2 separate regions of the Homo sapiens genome follow, and region 2 is linked to region 1. A link means that fine-mapping ties the variant in region 1 to the expression of a gene that starts in the linked region. Tissue or cell type: whole blood. Region 1 holds a variant in brackets; the other region holds the start of a gene. All regions are shown on one strand. Distances are from middle to middle.

Region 1 (10,362 bases):
AAAGGAATAAAAGGCTGGCTTACATGCCTTCATGTTTACACTCAACATGAGGGAGTCAAGGAAGGCCCCCACTAGACAGATTACCCCACCTTGAGACCTTGTCTCTACCAAAAACATAAACAAAAAACTATTTTAAAACTAACTGGAATATGGTGGCATGCACCCGTAGTCCTATCTACTTGGGAGACTGAGAGGCAGGAGGACGGCTTGAGCGTGGGAAGTTGAGGTTGCAGTGAGCTGTGATTGTATCGCTGCACTCCAGCCTGGGTGACAGAGTGAGACCATGTCTCAAAAAATAAATAAATAAATAAATAAATAAGTGGAAAGTTTAGATATAACTGAAGGGAAGGAGAAATAGTAGCTGAGTATAAAGAATGAGTGGGTTACAATGAGGGGACATCACATATTACATCAATATTACATTGATGCCTTGAGAGGGGCTCAGAGCAAGAGATTATATTTTCCCTTAGCTTAATCATACAGGATGGGCCAGGTGCGGTGGCTCATGCCTGTAATCCCAGCATTTTGGGAGGCCAAGGCAGGTGGATCACCTGAGGTCAGGAGTTCGAGATCAGCCTGGCCAACATGGTGAAACCCCGTCTCTACTAAAAATACAAAAATTAGACGGGTGTGGTGGCGGCGGGTGCCTGTAATCCCAGCTACTCGGGAGGCTGAGGCAGGAGAATCAAAACTCCATCTCAAAAAAAAAAGAAATTATACAGGATGTCTGAAAGGGTGAAGCCATCTAATGCCAAGATCACTCCTGCTTTTGAAACCTGACAAAGCCAAAAGGAAGTCTGCAAGCCCTAGTGGCATCGCTCTGGGAGACATTCTGGTCATATGCTATGATTACTCCAGATGGACGGGACTCCCTGTTAATGTCTAAGACTCTGGTAATATGCCATTATCTTTTGACTATTATTTTTCAGGTTATATCTACAGCCATATTGTGATATAGCGTTAACACTCACCTTGTTGCTAAGATTCAACTATCTTACATAAACAGGTCATGTGATAATACTGATATTGATGATCAAATGTATTGGGAAAATGGCCCTAAGGAAGAACTGGATTTAACTAACCAAAGCTAATTTCTATGCTACCATGCTCTGAGAAGCCCAAGCCATGGAATCACTACATAGAGAAGTACAGAGGTCCTCAACTCACAGCCCTCACCAACTTGCTGGAGGATAGCAACACCAGCTACCAGCCCCATACCCCGGCCAGCATCACGTGGAGCAGGGCCGCCTGGTGAAGCCACTGGGTCCACAGAATCATGAAGTTACAACTGGCATTGCTTCAAGCCATGCAACATTGGGGAGTATTTTATTTCCTACCAGTAAATAGACAAAACACCTGATATTTCCAATCCCTCAGGCTTCCCGGATTCTGCTGGTTTTTGATGTCCACCCCCACCCGCCAGCGCTTGGATTTGAGCTCCCTCTGCTCTGCCAAGTCAGTCATCACTCTCCACTCTCCCCCTGCTTTCCAGAATGCTGAGTTCTCCTGTCTGTGCTCATTTCCTCCCCCGCTCTTCTTGTCCTTGTGGGTTTATGCCTTTTTTATCCCTTTATTGTAATTTTAGTGGGGTTTGGGGAGGGTGAAGAGATAAATAGATCTGCTTAATCCGTCCTGTTTAATTCAGTTTCTCCTGCATTCTTAACATCCTATTCACAGGATTCTCCCTCCACCTCCTTCTTTACTCAAGATCTGGCTCTGCTCACAGGCTCCTCCCAGACGCCACACACCCCAGAGTTGAGAGGTTTGGGGTCAGTGTCCTCATTCCCAGTGGTTCCTTGAGGGCCATGCCACTCACCTCTTCCACCCCGCCCCCATCCCTGGTGAATGCCATCATTCACTGAGCAGTGGGCACACCCTCTTCTCCATCAGCTCCCAGTCTTCTCATTCTGGTGACTTCACCATCCCCAAGATCAATCCAGCCATCAGCTTGGCCTCTGAGCGCCCCGAACTCCTCGTGTCACATGCTTCTCCTCTACCTCCTTCAGCCATGACGTCACAGGACCAAACCCCCACTGTGTCATCTCCCAGAGCTGCCTCCCCTCTGAAGTCACTAATTCAGGCTGCCTACCCAGCACAACGGCCAGCTAAGAGGTCCCTTCTCCTGTGTGGAGCTGATCCCGTAGTCTATGCTCTGCATCCCTTGTCGCGCCCCCACCTCCCGATGGTGCATTCCATCTGCCTTACGTTGTCACCTTCTCCTTCTCTGTACGGTTTATTTTACTTTATTTTATTCTATTTGGAGACAGAGTCTCGCTCTGTCGCCCAGGCTGGAGTACAATGGCACGATCTCAGCTCACTGCAATCTCCGCCTCCCAGGTTCAAGCGATTCTCCTGCCTCAGCCTCCTGGGTAGCTGGGATTACAGGCACCTGCACCACACCTGGCTAATTTTTAGTAGAGATGGGGTTTCACCATGTTGTCCAGGCTGAACTCAAACTCCCGACCTCAGATGATCTGCCCACCTCAGTCTCCCAAAGCGCGGAGATTACAGGTGTGAGCCTCCACACCCGGCCTCCTTCTCTGTATGTTTTCTGAGGGCAGCACCAGCACCCATTCACCCACTTCCAGCAGCAGAGCCTGATTTTGCCTCTAGACCTCTCCCTGTCCCCCTCAGTCCTTGTCATCTAGGTTAAACTGGCTACACCCTCAGCCTGGTGTGAGCCAGGCCCTGCCAATCCATCACCTTGCCTGGTGACTGAGATGGACTCGGGAGTGGACATCCGACCAAAGGCAGGCCAGTTAGTCAAGAGACTCTTGGATTTTTGTGGAAGCCATTAGGTAAGTGGGGTCTTTGCTGGTTGGATTTAAGTCTGGGAGGATGAAGGACAGCACTGTTGCAGCCGTTTTGCCACAATGAGGGGAGGGCCTTTGGGAGGATAAAGCCCAGCATAGAAGAGAGCAAAGCCTGAGGCCTGCGGCATCTATGCCTGAATCCAGCTGTGCCTGAAGGTAGCGCTGTAGCTCAGGTTTCCAGTTACAAGAACCCATTCAACCTTTCTGCCTTAGCCTGGTTAGTATTGTGGTCCCACTGAACGTACCATTCAGGAGAATCACGTTTAAAAGTGGCACAAGACAAAGACATGAATCTGAATACCTTCAGACATAGTCTACAGCTCCCCCTGGTGGAAAACATTGTTTTTTAGAGTCCAGCTACTAGGCCTTAATTTTTATCCACCACGTGTCCCAATAGTCTGTATATATCTAGGTCAATTTAGAACATCTTTTCTAGTTCAAAAAGCATGTAATTGCTGCTATTTATAATCCTGATCACAGCCCATTCCGGTAATACTTTGTAATTCAGAACTATAATCCCCAACGAAACATGTCCCAGAATCAAGCAGTGAATGTAGAATGTGCTAGATCATTAGGACTCTTTTTTTTTTCTTTTTGAGATAGGGTCTCGCTCTATTGCTCAGGCTGGAGTGCAGTGGTGTGATCAGGTTCACTGCCGTCTCGACCTCCTGGGTTCAATGATCCTCCCGCCTTGGCCTCCCAAAATGCTGGTGATTACAGGCAGGAACCACTGTGCCCAGCCAGGAATCAATGTTTATAATTATCAAAAAAGAGACAAGAAGAAAGGAGGAAACACAAAACCATAATGCGGAAGAATGTTAAAATCCGGTCAAGTATAACTTCATTGATTTCTGGTTTCAAGGATTGTACCCCACAATTGTCTCTTTTCTCCCCACACGTCATGGAAATGATCAGAAAGAAGTAATTGTATGACAGTTTAAAAAATGAACTGTTCCGACCTGGAGCGGTGGCTCACGCCTGTAATCCCAGCACTTTGGGAGGCCGAGGTGGGTGATCACCTGAGGTCAGGAGTTCGAGACCAGCCTGACCAACATGGTGAAACCTCGTCTCTACTGAAAAAAAAAAATGCAAAATTAGCCGGGCATGCTAGCGCATGGCGGAGGTTGCAGTGAGCCGAAATCGCGCTATTGCACTCCAGCATGGGTAACAAGAGCGAAACTCGGTCTCGGAAAAAAAAAAATCTGTTCCAGCAAATGATAAAGCTGGAGAGAATGTTACTAACAGAACTGAAAATCTGAGGAATTTGAGGAAATGTGTTCTTCGTTGAGAGCAAAGTCACGCAGTGCTGAGCTGAGCACCCAGCGCAAAGGAGGGGCTCCCTAAAGGAAGGTGGAAAGGTCTCCCCAGTAGAGCTCCGCCCAGCCCCAGCTCTAAGCAGCGGGCCCCGGGCATCAGGGTTTCAGGGCTGAGGAATGTCCAGCGCCGCCCGATCGCGCCTCGCTTCCTCCATCACTAAACCACCGGGGGACTGACTGCCCGAGGCTGGTGCAGAAGCGGGTGCGGAAGCGGGAGAGGGAACGCGCGTGGCGCTCCAGCCGCCACCCCAACCCTGCCACTTCCGCAGCTGCCCGGGCGCCGCTGCACCCGGACCACTCTGCGGTCTACCCGCTGCGGCCAGAAGAAGAGAGACTCCGGGGAGGGTGGCCCTGCCGCACCCTGGCCTTCACAGAGCAGGGGGCGGAAGAGCCCAGGTGCCCTCGGTGCCTGCGCAACCTGAGCCCCGGCCGCCTCGCGCCTTATCCTTGGGGCTCCCCCTGGCGGCTAAGCCGGTCCCTGCAGGGAAACGTGCCCGTTGTCTC[A/C]TCTGCATCCACTTAGCACCAAGACGGGGTAGCTGAGGGGGTCGGCGGAAGAGGAGAGGGGAGGCAGCAAAAGATGATCCATGCGGACGACCAGGGAGCCCACACCAGCCTCCAAGCGCGTCAGCCTCCAGCTCCACTCCCCAGGGTGAAGAGTCAACGGACAATCACCCCGAAGTAAGGCCCTACCGCCTCCTGAAAAAGGTGGTTAAAGAAGGGCAATCCGCTAAAGAATAGAGTACACGGGCCGGGCGCGGTGGCTAACGCCTGTAATCCCAGCACTTTGGGAGGCCGAGGCGGGCGGATCACGAGGTCAAGAGATCGAGAGCATCCTGGCGAACACGGTGAAACCCCGTCTCTACTAAAAATACAAAAAATGAGCCGGGCTTGGTGGCGGGCGCCTGTAGTCCCAGCTACTCGGGAGGCTGAGGCAGGAGAATGGCGTGAACCCGGGAGGCGGAGCTTGCAGTGAGCCGAGATAGCGCCACTGCACTCCAGCCTGGGCGGCAGAGCGAGACTCCGTCTCAAAAACAAAAAACAAACAAACAAACAAACAAACGGAATGGAGTACACGAATTATAAGTACAAGAATGTACTTAAAATATTCAAATTAATACCCTCAATAACATTAATGCCAGAATCTTGCATTCACAATAAAAAACTTGGTGTCCAAAATGTGGTACATCCATGCAATGGAGTATTATTCAGCCTCTAACAGGAATGAAATTCTTACACATGCTATAATGTGGGTGGACCCTGAAAACATTACCCTGAGTGAAATAAGCCAAATACGGAAGGACAAATCCTGTATGATTCCACCTCTACGAGGTACTTAGAATAGGTAAATTCATACAGGAGAAAGTAGACTAGAGGGGCCGTCGTTGTTTAATGGGTACAGAGCTTTTGTTGGAGATGGTGAAGAGTTTCAGGTGTAGTGGTGATGGTTACACAAAAATTTTGGCTGTACTTAATGCCACTAAACTGTACACTTAAAAATGGCTAAAATGAGGCCGGGCGCGGTGGCTCACGGCTGTAATCCGAGCACTCTGGGAGGCCGAGGCGGGTGGATCACCTGAGGTCAGGAGTTCGAGACCAGCCTGGCCAATATGGCGAAACCCCGTCTCTACTAAAAATACAAAAATTAGCACGTGCCTGTAATCCCAGTCTGAAGGTATTCAGATTCATGTCTTTGTCTTGTGCCACTTTTAAACGTGATTCTCCTGAATGGTACGTTCAGTAGGACCACAATGCTAACCAGGCTAAGGCAGAAAGGTTGAATGGGTTCTTGTAACTGGAAACCTGAGCTACAGCGCTACCTTCAGGCACAGCTGGATTCAGGCATAGACGCCGCAGGCCTCAGGCTTTGCTCTCTTCTATGCTGGGCTTTATCCTCCCAAAGGCCCTCCCCTCATTGTGGCAAAACGGCTGCAACAGTGCTGTCCTTCATCCTCCCAGACTTAAATCCAACCAGCAAAGACCCCACTTACCTAATGGCTTCCACAAAAATCCAAGAATTGAGTCTCTTTTTATTTATTTATTTATTTTTTTGAGACGGAGTTTCACTCCTTTGTCCAGGCTGGAGTGCAATGGCAGGATCTTGGCTCACTGCAACCTCCGCCTCCCAGGTTCAAGGGATTCTCCCGCCTCAGCCTCCTGAGTAGCTGGGACTACAGGCACCCGCCACAATGCCCGGCTGATTTTTTGTATTTTTAGTAGAGATGGAGTTTCACCATGTTGACCAGGCTGGTCTTGAACTTCTGGCCTCAGGTGATCCACCCGCCTAGGCCTCCCGAAGTGCTGGGATTACAGGTATGAGCCACTGCACCCGGCCAAGAATTGAGTCTCTTGACTAACTGGCCTGCTTTTGGTCGGATGTCCACTCCCGAGCCCATCACAGTCACCAGGCAAGGTGATGGATTGGCAGGGCCTGGCTCACACCAGGCTGAGGGTGTAGCCAGTTTAACCTAGATGACAAGGACTGTAGCTGGGACTACAGGTGCAGGCCACCACGCCCGGCTAATTTTTTGTATTTTAGTAGAAATGGGATTTCACCATGTTGGCCAGGATGGTCTCGATCTCCTGACCTTGTGATCCACCCACTTCGGCCTCCCAAAGTGCTGGGATTACAGGCATGAGCCACTGCACCCAGCCTGTTGTGGCCATCTTTAGAAAATACAATACGCCACAGCCTGCCCTCTGACCACAACTCACATTCCAACCACATGAAAACACAAGGCTCTTCCCATTATGGCATCAACTCAAGGTCTAGCACTTCTGCATCCAAGTTGGGTCCAGAGGCAGCTGAGTCTCCACAGGTGATTCACCAACTTTCTGCAGCTCTCAGGGTACCTGTTCTGGATTAAAAATGAGATCATCCCAGCTCTGTGGGGTGGTCAAGAGCTTCCCTGGAATGTGGCATCGTAACATTCCACTAGCACTCCCTGAGCACCTTACATGCCCAGCTCCACTGTGTGGACCCATGGAAAACCTGGATGAACAGGAAAGACCCAGAATTTGCCAATGCAAGCTTTGGTGTAGGCTGTCCTCTGTGACTGTCACTGGTTCCACTGATGCAGGGCAGGTGAGCCCCAAAATTGAGGCTTAGCCAGGGAGGGTTCTTGGCTTCACCCAAGAAAGAATTCAAGGGCAAGCTGGTGGCAAGGGGTGGATATGCAACAATTTCTAGAAAAAGGTTGGTAACTTCTGGGTTGTTGAGTTGTTGCCATGGAAAGGGGTAGTAACTTCTGGGTGTTGCCATGGCAATGGTAAACTGACATGGCACTGGTGGGCGTGTCTTATGGAGTGGTGTTCTCACCTCTTCCGTGTTTCAGCTAGTCTTCAATCTGGTCCAGAGTCCAAGCCCCACCTCTGGAGTCAAGTCCTGCCTCCTATATCACTGCTACTTGGATGTCATCCCCAATCGTGGAACCTTCTTCAGGTTCCTTAACTTTACTACATTCAACTGTAAAATCTCATAGCTACATTCCATGGTGACTTCAGGTTTTTGAACATATGCTGATAAATACTTATTTGGAGGGATCACACAGTGGTCCTGTCAGCCAGCCTCACTTTCCATTGTGGTTACATCCTCATCTGTAGAGCAAGGCTTCTTACCATTTTTTTGGAATATTTATCTTATGAGAAATGGGAATACTGAAAGCATAACTATTAAGACTTCATATAATTGAGACAAATAGAAAAGATTTACCTACAACAGGGTGTTCACTGGCTTTAAGCTAAAGGACCTGGCAGACTGCGTTCTAGTTGTTAAGGAAAGAAACAAAATACACAAAATCCTGGGAATGCATCATTGGAAGTTGAGCCTAAAATGTACTGTATTATTGGGGACTTTATATTAAATACATTTGATGACAGATTTACCCTCTTTGGGAAGAGAACCTTCCTGATAGTCTGTGGTTCCCACTCTCCTATCAGGCCCGAGTCTGCGTTTTTTTGTTTGTTTTGTCTTCGTTTTGAGATGGAGTTTCGCTCTTGTTGCCCAGGCTGGAGTGCAGTGGCACGATGTCGGCTCACTGCAACCTCTGCTTCCCGGGTTCAAGGGATTCTCCTGCCTCAGCCTCCCCAGTAGCTGGGACTACAGGCACATGCCACCACGCCCGGCTAATTGTTTGTATTTTTAGTAGAGACGTGATTTCACCGTGTTAGCCAAGATGGTCTCGATCTCTTCACCTCGTGATCCGCCCGCCTCGGCCTCTCAAAGTGCTGGGATTATAGGCAACAGCCTCCCCGCCCGGCCGAGCCTGCGTTTTTAGGTGTACCATGCAGCATACACGAAAGGGATGAAAGACCCGCGTATCCATTGGCCCTGACTGCTGTGACGGATTACCACAAACTTGGTGGCTGAAACAACACACGTTTACTCTCTTACAGTTCTGGAAGTCAGAAGTCCGAATTCAGTTTCACTGGGCCCAAATCCGGTTGTTGGCGGGGCCTTGCTGTCTCTGCAGAATCCATTTCCCATCCATTTCCCGGAGTCACATTTCTTGCGTCCCTTGGCTCCTGTCCTCCAGCAGCGCAGCATCCTGCTTCAGTGTTGCTTTGCTTTGTGTGTCGAATCTCCCTCTTATAAGGACGCTTGTGATTACATTGAGGGCCCACCCAGATAATCCAGGATAATCTTTCCATCTCAAGATCCTTACATTCAAATGGCGAAACATTATTGAATAAAATGAAGTAAATCTATATCTAAGAACATGGAAAACGTCCAAGACATGTAATAAAGGGAAAAATAGAAACTAATACTCGACAACCAGTTAGAAGATATAATAGAAGAAAAGGACCTACAAGAGCAATATAAAAGATAAAATGCTTTTTAATAAACTTAACACAGTTCACAGGTTCTGGGGATTTGGAAATAAAAGAAAAAAAAAGAAAAGAAAAATACAATGATAAAAAAGAAAAGAGTAACAAGAAATACATCAAACTCACTTAAAGAAAAGGTAAAAACACTACAGAAGGGTACAAAAGTAGGCTTCAACAAATAGTAGTCTTGCCCAGAAAGACTCAACATCCTAAAATGTAAATCTTCCATAAATTAATTTATAAGTTTAACACAATAACAAAGAAAGTGCCAATGACTTTTTAAAAATTAGGAAGATGATTAAAAAGACAATATAAAAAATTAATGCATAAGAATTATCAGGAAAATTCTGGAAAGGAGGAGCAATGAGGCAGAGGACGGAGAGTAGCTCTGTAAATTAATTAAAAATATTATAATACTTCAGTAATGAAAGTAGTATAGTAGTGGTTCATATTAGACAGACTGACCAAGGGAACAGAACAGAAAATCCAGAAATACATGCAGATACATTCAGGATTGTTCTTTATGATGATATGAGGAGAAATGAATTATTCAGTGAATGGTAATGGGACAGCTGGGAACCAGGCAGATGAAAATAAAATTGGATCCACACCTTACTCCTCACATCAGGATAAATTCCAAAGGGGTCACAGATTTAAATGTAAACGTGAAACTGTAAGTCCTTGAAGAATGAAGAAAACATTGGAGAATGTGTTTGTAGCCTTTGCTTTTCTGATAGTGATTTAAAATCCAAACGGCATTTAAAAATTTTAAAAGACTGCATTTGAAAATGTACTTGGCAAAAACACACTCACATTATAAGCAAAGAGTAGACACATCAACTGGGATTTTTTTTTCAAATCATATTACAAATGTGTATTCTCCTAACATATAAAGAGATCTAAAAAATGATAAGAAAAAGACCAATAACCCAATAGAAAAGTGAGCAAAAGATATAAACAGACAGTTCTCAAAAAAGATATGCAAAAGGCCTGTAAACATGAAAATATGTTCAGCCTCACTCAGAAGAGAAACACAAATTTAAACTATACCATGATACTTTTTTTTCCCTTGGATGCCATTTTTCTTTTTCAAATATCAAATTGGAGAAATTAAAAACACACTCTGAATCCAGGCTGTGGGCAACAAGACACTCTAAGTCATTGCTGGTACTAGTGTAAATTGGCATAATCCCTAGAGGGGACAATTTGGCAACATCTCTCCAAATTACAGTGCATTTACACAGGCAATTTGCCTGTAGATGTACTTAGATATATGCAAAGTGAGGCTTGTACAAGGTATTCATCGGAGCAGCAATAGCAAAGAGTAACCAGGTTACAGTTCTGCGATTCAATGGAATCTATGCAGCTATGATCAGCTCTCTATGAAACAAGAAACAAGACCTCCAAGA
Region 2 (9,073 bases), 60 kb before region 1:
CTTCAACTATCTGGGTTGCCCTCCTCCTTCTTTGAGCCTCTGCAAAATCCCACCCGTCCTCCAAAGCTCAGCTCAAATTCTGCCTCATCCATAATGTGTTCTCTGAGTGCCACAATCTATGGTCCAGCCTTCTGGTCAGCTTCCACAGAATTGGCTACATAATTTAGCATAAAATTATGAGCTCACTTATGACAAGTCTTAAGTTGTCATGGTGGACTGTTACTGAAATGTTTTACCGTTGTTTAATCTTTCCTATTGCCCTTTTTTTTTCCTTTAACCACTTAGACTGTGTGCACTTTCGCAGACATGTTGATTCTTCCCAGAAGCAGCACCTGCTCTGTGCCAGGCTCTGTGTGGGTACTTGGGGAAGAGCAAGACAAGTTCCATGGAAGGAGGCCTCTGACTTGAGCAGCTAATATAGCTGCATAAACCACGAATTGCGTGTCAGAAGGCAGTCCACAGTGCTTTAGGAGCTCATGGTGGGGGAGGGGGTGACCAACTCTGGGGAGTTGGGCAAAGTTCTTGAAGGAGCGGACACTCGGGTCAAGTCTTGAAGATGAGCAGAAGTGTTTGCTAGATGGGGAAGAGGCAGGGTAGGTCATCCTAGGTTTTCCCTGCTCCTAGTGTGAAACGGCATGATGTGTTTGAAAATTCATCTTTGTAGTTGCACATAACTAATGCCTCAGATATATTTGTTGCCTTTATTTAATGTAGCTGCACAGTACGCCCATTGACTTCTAAGCCAGAGAGGGACTAATGTTGGGACTGTAGCTCCTACAGTGCTTTCGGGTCCCTCCGCCAAAAGGTTGGAACTTCACGTTCTCAGAAGTCCCAGGGTTCTTTAGAGGGAAAACGAGAAGATAATCCCTGGGGTCCTCTCAGCCTTCCAAATGGAGCTTAGCTCTTTCACCCCAGTCCTTACTTTCCTGCTGCGTACACTTCGGCGGTGTCAAACAGGTTTACACCATGCTCATAGGCTACAGTCAGCACATCCTCTGCTGTCTAGGGAGGTGAAAGAGGTAAAGATCAACTACTGCTCCTCAGTTACCTCCCTCACTGTACTCTAACCCATCACATCTCAGCCCTGGGTTCTCTAGTCTCTCCCCTCTCCCCATCCTCCAGCCTCAGATCCCTCATTCCCTGTGCTTGTTGTCCAAACCCCTATCCAGGTTCACTTCCCTTTTTTCAAGTTCCCTCACCCCCACCACCCTGATTCTAGGTCCGATAACTTATACCTCATCTGAGATCTGAGAACCAAATGTGACCCAGGTACCTGCAAGAGAGAAGCCAGGCACATGAGAACTGCAGGGGGCAGACCATGAAAGAATGCCCTCCTTTCCTTAATCCCTATTCTGACTCACCTAGGCCAAGACAGGATACCCGAAGACCAGACTTCCCTAGGTTCCTGCAAGATACAGAAGCAGCGGGAAGGGGTGGAGCCTCCATTATGGACTTAGATTATCAGCCCCCAGCTCCTCTCCTTCCAGACTGAGAAGCCCTCAGGTGTCTCAGTCCAAAGAAATTAGACCCAGTGGGCCTATAAGATTGGGCAAGTGCTATCTCCAGAGCAGAGGTCCTAGGAATTTTCTCAAAAGGACAAGTGAACCATATGTGACTGTTCCTCTGGAGCCACTGTCCAGAGTCTCCATTCCCTCTTATCACATTGAAGACGTGCAGTCTGGTTTGTCCTTCTTCTGGGGTCTTGTCTGTGTTTGAGTCATCTGTGGGTTGTGTGCAGTGAGGGGCTGGGAGGAATTTTGTTTGATTGTGGTGAGTTTGTGAGACCAGGCCCTCAGGCAGAGTGCTGTGCCAAATGGTAGATGGCAGGTTGGAAGAGGTAAACCAAGTCAAGTTCAGGCATTCAGACAGACAGGGGTCCCTGGCTAGGCTAGGCAGATGGGCCTGGAGGAAAGGCAGATTGAGGACCTGGGGGGAGGGGGGAGAGTAAGACAGAAAAGCCTAGTTCTCCCTCTCCACTCCCTCTGTTCCTATTGACTTGTGAAGACTGTCTCTGAACCAGTGAGCCCCCTCATCCTCCCAAAGCCCCCAACCCAGGTGTCAGCTCAGCTTTCCAATCAGGGCCACCATATAGAGGGGATCAGATTCCTCAGGTGACAAAGCAGGTCAGATCAGTGACCTCAGCTCACTCCCAAGCAGGAGCCCCTCCTCTACCCCCTACTTCAGGTTCTGAGCTTCTGGTCTGGCAGTCCTCTGAGATAAAGTCAGTTACATTTCAGTCTACCCAGACCCTGTCCCTCAGCATGGAGATGAAAAATGTGGTCCATCCTTCCCACCGGCCCCACTCCCCTTGCACCCAAGAAAGGTCGCAGAAGACCTAGCCTTTGGGGCAGGCAGGGGCAGTATCTGGGTCAGGCACCCCGAGCAGGCCAGAGTGAGAAGCTGATTCCCTCCCTCCACTCCCCAGGACACGGACCCAAGGACACTCCACTGGAGGAGGCATAGCCTGGAGATCCGTGTAGCGTGGAGATCCATGCATCCCTGACCTTCCCAGGGGTAAGGAGGGAAGCTCAGGGGCATCCCCTGGGTCTGACAGGACCCAGTCAACCTTGGTAAACTTGATTCTCGTAGTCAGGGGTATCGACAGAAACCAAGAGAGGGACAAAGTGAGGGAGTGCCAGAGACAGAAAGAAGAGATGGAAAGAAGGGAGACCTACTTAGTGAAGTTTGAAGGGGTCTTGGCGGCCATCTCAAGCAGTCTCAGGGGTCCCGAAAGGAAAGCGGAAGGGGTGGGCTGCCCGGCCACCCCCATACCTGTATTTCATGCCAGTGCCTCGGCCGGTGCTCTCTCGGAGGGCCCCAGCGGGCGCTGGGGGTCGGGGAACCAGTGCAGCTCGGGCCTTGGGGCCAGACCCTCCACCCCCCGGAGGATTCCCGTGCCCCCCGCCGGCCGGCCCACCATTACCGCCCCCGGGGCCCGGCCGGGGTCCACACAGACGGTCCTCACTGCTCCGGCTGCGAAGGTTCTGCTCGGTACACGCGATAGACACCTGCATGCTGGCTGGCCGAGGCGGGGGAGGGGGCTCCGAGGGGACGGGAGGGGGGAGCAGGGAAGCCCGAGGGCTGACGACCGGGGGCGTAGTGGGGCGAACCCCGGCAGAGCGGGAAGGCTGAGGAGGCTGCGGCGGGAGCCGCCAGGCAGGATCGGGCCCGCGGGGGCGGGCTGCTGGAGGTCGCGAGGTTTGCGGCGGGAGGGAAGAAACGTGGGGGGCGCCAGGAGTGGAGATATTCAGTTACGGGGGACACAGGAGCAAGGATTAGGAGGGGGAAATGGATGAGGGTAAAGGTCGAGGATGAGGTAAAGGTCTCGGAGGATAAGGACCCAGGGGGAAGCGGGGCGGGAGAGAGATGCCACTTCAGCGCGAACCGCTGCGGGACCCGCTGGGCTCCCAGCCGCGTCGGCAGCGGGCCCAGCTCATCAGCATGCAGGCACCGCCTCCTCATCTGCATAGAGCCGCCCTCCTCTCAGCCAAACCTGCCGCTCATCTGCATAAGCCCCGCCTGCTGAAGGCTCTGCAGCTTGAATATTTTCTGAGCGGAATTGGGGAGGATGGCTCCTGCACCCTCTGGGACCCAAGGGCTGTCAGGCTTCCCCCGGCCCAGTGATTCTCAATCGGGAGGGAATGTATCTCCCAGCGTACTTTCGGCAAGGTTTGGAGATATTTTTGATTTCATGCCTGTGCTATCAGCATCTAGTGGGTGGTGGCCAGGGATGCTAAAATCCTACAAAGCACAGGACGGTCCCCACAATAAAGAATTATCCAGCTCAAAGCATCAATATTCCCACGGTTGAGAAACCCATCCGCAAAGCCACTTCGTGGCCCTCCAGGGGGTGTGGCTGCCCTACTTTCCACCTTCATGCGTGGGGCAGGACTGAGAGGGCCCTCAAACCAACACGCTCAGGCCGCAGAGAGTGACAAAAAGTTTATTCTGTGCTTCTCGCAGCATTAGGCAGGGGATAAAACTGGAGAGAGGGCCTGGTGTGGAGGTGGAGGGACTCTGTGGGCTTCACTCTGGTAGGAGGAGAGCATCAGGGCAGGCCTTTAGGCTGTTGCTCTGGGCAGGGGGTGGGGGTGCGGGGGCTTACAGTGGGGGCCCTTAGTTGGCACAGGTTCGGAAGGGCCCCAGGCAGACATGAATTCTCCTGAGACTTGAGGTAGGTTGCTTCAGCCAGCCCGGGCGGAGAAGAAGGGCAGAGAGCGAACATAGGAGTCCAGTCGGGAGCGAAAGAGCTCACTTTGCACAGTTTGGCCCAGCGGGCACAGGGGATTCTTCACCACCAGCTCCACATACAGCTATGGAAAGGGAAGATGTTAGAGCCAGGCTTTGGATACTTCTGGTTTTTAGCCCCAAACCTTGTATAACCTCAGGGGTGTGTGAATGCACAAGGAATAAGGGCTGGAAGGCAAGCCCTCTCTGAGGAGAAAGTGGTGGTGGGAGTTAAGAACCTAAGGGCCCCTGAGAAAACTCTTGAGTTGAGCAAACATATAGTAGGATTGGGGCAGGGGAGATGAGGGAGTCTTGGGGTTCTGAAGAGCTCTGGGGGATGGGTCCCTGGGGCTGGCACTGACCGCACTGTAGATGTGGTGCAGCACATCTCGGATGGGTCCCACGCCCAAGTCAGTATTCATGACAACTTTGATCCCAGTGGGCGTCTCGTAGTAATGGAGTTTGTAACGGCTAGTTTGGAAGGCCAGGAAGCCATCCTTCCTGCAGAGATGAGGAGGGTGTTAAAGAATGGGAGCAGAATCTCTCCCAAAGAGACACTTCTGATCCCCGCAAACATCGACTCCCTCTTTATCTAAACATATCCTTTGTAGAAGCCTGGTTGAGTAAAGACATCGCCCATCGTCACCCCTCAATTTAGCCCCCACCAACTTCTCTACTTTCAGACCCTCCCCACCCCCACTCCTGCCAGCTCCAGCACTCTCGCTCCGGACTCAGCCTCTCTTAAGTACCCTTTCCCCCCTCTGGAGGCCAATGCTCCTTCCACTTCAGAAAGTTTCCCCCATCCCCAAATTCCCAAGGCTAGCCCTCCTCCCAACATCTTCTCTGACTCCGCGTACATGTCTAGCGGGGACATCTTGCTGACAAACGAGCGGATAGAGAAGAGCATCCCGTACATCAGCTTATACTCCTGGAGGGAGAGGGGCAGAGTTAGCTCTCGGTTGATGCGGGAGATGGGGTGGGGGGTGGGAACGAGCTGGGGTTTGGAGAGGAGGGGCTGGGTTGGGACTATAGGTGTTTGGAGATGAGAGGTCGCCCGGGCTGCACCGGGGCCCTCTCGTCACCTCCTCCTTGGGAATCCCTGCTTGCTTCTTGCGGTGCCATTCGCTGTAGTGCAGACACACTCCATTCCGGTCAAACAGGTACAGGTTGTGGACAGTCATCTGCAGGGCAGGGAGTGTGAGCCTCGCTCCGGGGCCGCCCCCACTCCTTGGGCTCGGGTTCCCGGACCCACAGCCTTCCAACCAGGTGGGGACCCCACCCACGGACTCACCGGAACTGCTCCGAGTGCCCGTCAAGAGTTACTTCCGGTTTCCACGGAGCTCCGCCCCTTAGGGGGGTTCTCGCTCGGCCGCGGCTGGGCATTAACTCCGCTCCAGTGCTGCTTGTCAGACTCCGCCTCCCTCCCTCAGCCAATCTGTGGCCACCGGAGCCGCGCACGCGCGGCCAGGCGCTCGGGATACAGAAGTGATGTGAGTGTCTGCGAGCGTGGTCTCGCGGGCGGGTGACGTCATCGAGGCGAGAGAGGCGGAGCCGTGGACAGTGGGCGGGAGGCTGCCAACGGTTTTGAGCGTAGGGGGAGGCGTGAGAGGGGGATCTCAGGGGAGGAGGTCAATCGCTTGCCCCCCACTTTGGCAAATTGGGGACTGAGGACTGGAAGGGTGGAGAGTAGGCGGAACCAGGTGGTCGTCGGGGCAGAGGATCTCGGGCTAGGCTTGAGGGCGGCGTGCTTCTTAGGGACGACTTAGGGCGTGACTGAGGGTTCACAAGGTTTCTTTTGGGGTGGTCGGGAGGGAGAGATTCTAGGGAACAAGGAAGCTCGCTATGGCTTTCTTGCCAGGAGGGGTCGAAGGGAAAGTACAAGGGAGCTGGAGCTGACCCTGGGTAGAACGGGTGAAGGGATGGGGGAGCGTGAGGTTCCGCCCTCTCTTGAGACTGGAACCAATTGAGGGACTAGTAGGGCAGGGGGACAGAAATTGGGCTCCTAGTGGATTTGGGTCCGTTTCCGTTGGGACGTTTTGGGTGTGAGAACTTAAGAGCTCAGTTGACCGGGGATAGCCTGTGCCGGAGTTGATCTGCAGCTTCCAGCACTCGTAGTCGGGAAGAGGAGCTTCAGCAGCGCTGTTGTCCCACAGTAGGTCTTCTGTCCGCACCCGCTCTGCGCTGCACCCTCTTAACGCTGTTCCCAGGAGCTGGGGAAAGGGATGCTTTTGCCCACTCCCATGGCCCCTGGAACTGGTGGAAACCTTTCCTCTAACCAGAAAGCCTCGATATCCTTAATTCACCAAGGATCCTTGGCGTGGAGTCTTCCTCCCTTCTCCCAAGTCTTTCTCCGTGAACTTTTCCTCCTGGACTTTGCTAAAGCAGAACCTCCCAGCTCTTTGCTGTCTCCGGTTGTCTCTTCCCTGTATTCATGGCAACATCAGCTGACAGCCCCAGTTCACCCCTCGGGGCGGAGGATCTCCTGAGTGATTCATCAGAACCCCCTGGGCTCAACCAAGTGTCGTCTGAAGTGACCTCCCAGCTCTATGCTTCTTTGCGCCTCAGCCGGCAGGCGGAGGCCACGGCCCGAGCCCAGCTGTATTTACCCTCCACCTCCCCGCCTCATGAAGGGTTAGACGGCTTCGCCCAAGAATTGAGTCGAAGCTTGTCAGTCGGATTGGAAAAGAACTTGAAGAAAAAGGTGAGGGAAGTGTGTCTTGGAGACCACTGTGGCACTAGACACCAGAGAGTCTTGGGATTGGGGTTGGTAAAAATAAAAAGCTTTGATGAGATTTGAACTCTTCCTGTTGGATTTCATATTCCTTTTAACTGCATAGGCAGCCATGCTTATAAGGGAGGGAGTGACCTGGGACACCATAATTTGAAAATTATGAAACTTCCCAGTGTTTTTTTGTGAGAGACATCTCTGCTCCGAGTAGATAGAGCAAACCTATGGGGTAGGTTGGTGAGCTATTTCCCGTGCACTGGGAATGGGTAAGGTTTCTTGATCCCAAGAGGGAGCTAGGGACTTAGGATAGCAGCTCCGATCCTTCCAGCTCAACACTATGTTGATAGTATGGTTCCAACTTTGGCATGTACATCATTAAGACATAGCTTAGTCAACTACAACATGTTACAGAGAAGATAGTTATTAGTATTGTATAGAAAAGGTGTCAGAGTCAATTTGCAGACTGGTTAGGTCTTCCAGAGTTTGAAAATGATAGCCATAAGCCATACAGTCCTTACATTTGTTCTTGAATCGGCAAGAATCTCCGCAACTCTTGTCTTATACCTCCTCGATTATTTTATTTACACTCTCTTTCTGGCTTCTGTAGTATTTGAATTTCTGATTCAAGTTTAGGACATCCCTTATTGGATCCGTTTGGTTTTTCTTGTTTTCCAAAGTGCTGGAGTGAAAATTCTACCCTGGCAATAGGTAGGAGATAGATAACACAGACTGCATCTGATTTCCATGTGGCTTTTTTCCAGGATGGTTCTAAGCATATCTTTGAGATGGAAAGTGTTCGGGGTCAGCTCCAGACCATGCTCCAAACCTCACGTGATACAGCCTATCGTGAGTAAGCCCCTTCCCTAGAACTATGAAGGAGAACCTAGATGTAAGGGGTGGGAGAAAGTGGACAGAGGAAGCAGGCAGGAAAACCTCTGAGCAAGAGATTTCAGGAGAAAAGTCTCCCGTTCTTTGGGAGAGGGGGTGAAGGAGTGAGGGAACTGGAAAGGAAGGCCTTTTCTCTTCAGGTGGCCCCTGTTTTTGTCATTACCTGACTCTGGCTTTGGGGTCCCTCTGGCTGCCTGCAGGGGATCCTCTCATTCCTGGCGCTGGCTCAGAGAGACGGGAAGAGGACTCCTTTGACAGTGATAGCACAGCCACCTTGCTCAAGTGAGTTCTCCTTGTGGTTCTCCTAGCTTGTTTGCTTTCTTGGAAATCCAGGTGTTTTGTTCCTTATTTCTCCCTTTATTGCTTTTGTACCTCTTAAGAACCCAAGAGGCTTATCACTTGCCTTTCAGTTTTCATCTTTTTCTACTGTCTCCTGCCCCCTTTACTCCTTCAGGAACACAGGTATCTGTTGCCTAGTACCTGGCTTTCTCTTAACCTGCAGTCATTCTTCCCCTCTAAAGAGTTAGCTTGTTTCTGCTGAAACCTTTAAGTGAATCACAGACCTGTGTGTTATTTATAGCACTATGGTTATATAGCTTTACGACTTTGGACAAGTCTCTTGCCCTCTCTGGGTCTCAGTTTCCTCATTTGTAGAATATCACAGTTGGACAAGTGGATTCCAAAAGCTTTCCCAGCCCTAACATTCTCTACCTGATTTGCTCAGCACCCGGCCCCTGCAAGACTTGTCTCCATCTAGCTCAGCCCAAGCCCTGGAGGAGCTGTTTCCCCGCTACACCAGCCTTCGGCCAGGGCCTCCACTCAATCCCCCAGATTTTCAGGGGCTGAGAGATGCATTGGATTCAGAGCATACCCGCCGCAAGGTAAGATGCAAACGCTTCCTTTCGAAAGCAGCAAAGATTAGAAAGAGGGGACCCAAGTGTTGAAAAGGGCTGAGGGGGCCTGGCGTGGTGGCTCACGCCTGTAATCACAGCACTTTGGGAGGCTGAGGCAGGCGGATCACGAGGTCAGGAGATCGAGACCATCCTGGCTAACACGGTGAAACCCGTCTCTACTAAAAATAGAAAAAATTAGCCGGGCATGGTGGTGGGTGCCTGTAGTCCCAGCTACTCGGGAGGCTGAGGCAGGAGAATGGCGTGAACCTGGGAGGCGGAGCTTGCAGTGAGCCGAGATCATGCCGCTGCACTCCAGCCTGGGCGACAGAGCGAGACT

What was found. PIP is the estimated chance that this variant, and not a neighbour inherited with it, causes the effect.
Region 2: CNTROB starts here. The variant in region 1 is fine-mapped to the expression of CNTROB in whole blood (INTERVAL, PIP 0.99).

What each region holds. Positions count from the first base shown.
Region 1 is chr17:7,985,759-7,996,120 of GRCh38, forward strand. No RefSeq gene overlaps it. Among named protein-coding and RNA genes, the nearest start is that of GUCY2D, 12 kb to the right of the region's middle. The variant A/C (reference allele first, on the strand shown) is at 4,634.
Region 2 is chr17:7,926,422-7,935,494 of GRCh38, forward strand. It overlaps CNTROB (centrobin, centriole duplication and spindle assembly protein), which reads left to right and starts at 5,785. Exons shown (of 19, transcript NM_053051.5): 1 at 5,785-6,928; 2 at 7,717-7,801; 3 at 8,044-8,125; 4 at 8,568-8,724. The coding sequence starts at 6,659. It overlaps KCNAB3 (potassium voltage-gated channel subfamily A regulatory beta subunit 3), which reads right to left and starts at 3,435. Exons shown (of 14, transcript NM_004732.4): 1 at 2,773-3,435; 2 at 1,362-1,405; 3 at 1,236-1,273; 4 at 923-1,002. The coding sequence starts at 3,014. TRAPPC1 (trafficking protein particle complex subunit 1) reads right to left here and starts at 5,525. Exons shown (of 4, transcript NM_021210.5): 1 at 5,310-5,525; 2 at 5,085-5,155; 3 at 4,590-4,728; 4 at 3,928-4,313. The coding sequence starts at 5,408. The coding sequence ends at 4,185. RefSeq lists enhancers at 5,239-5,478, 5,819-5,868, 6,089-6,148, 6,179-6,468, 6,599-6,728 and a silencer at 6,656-6,833.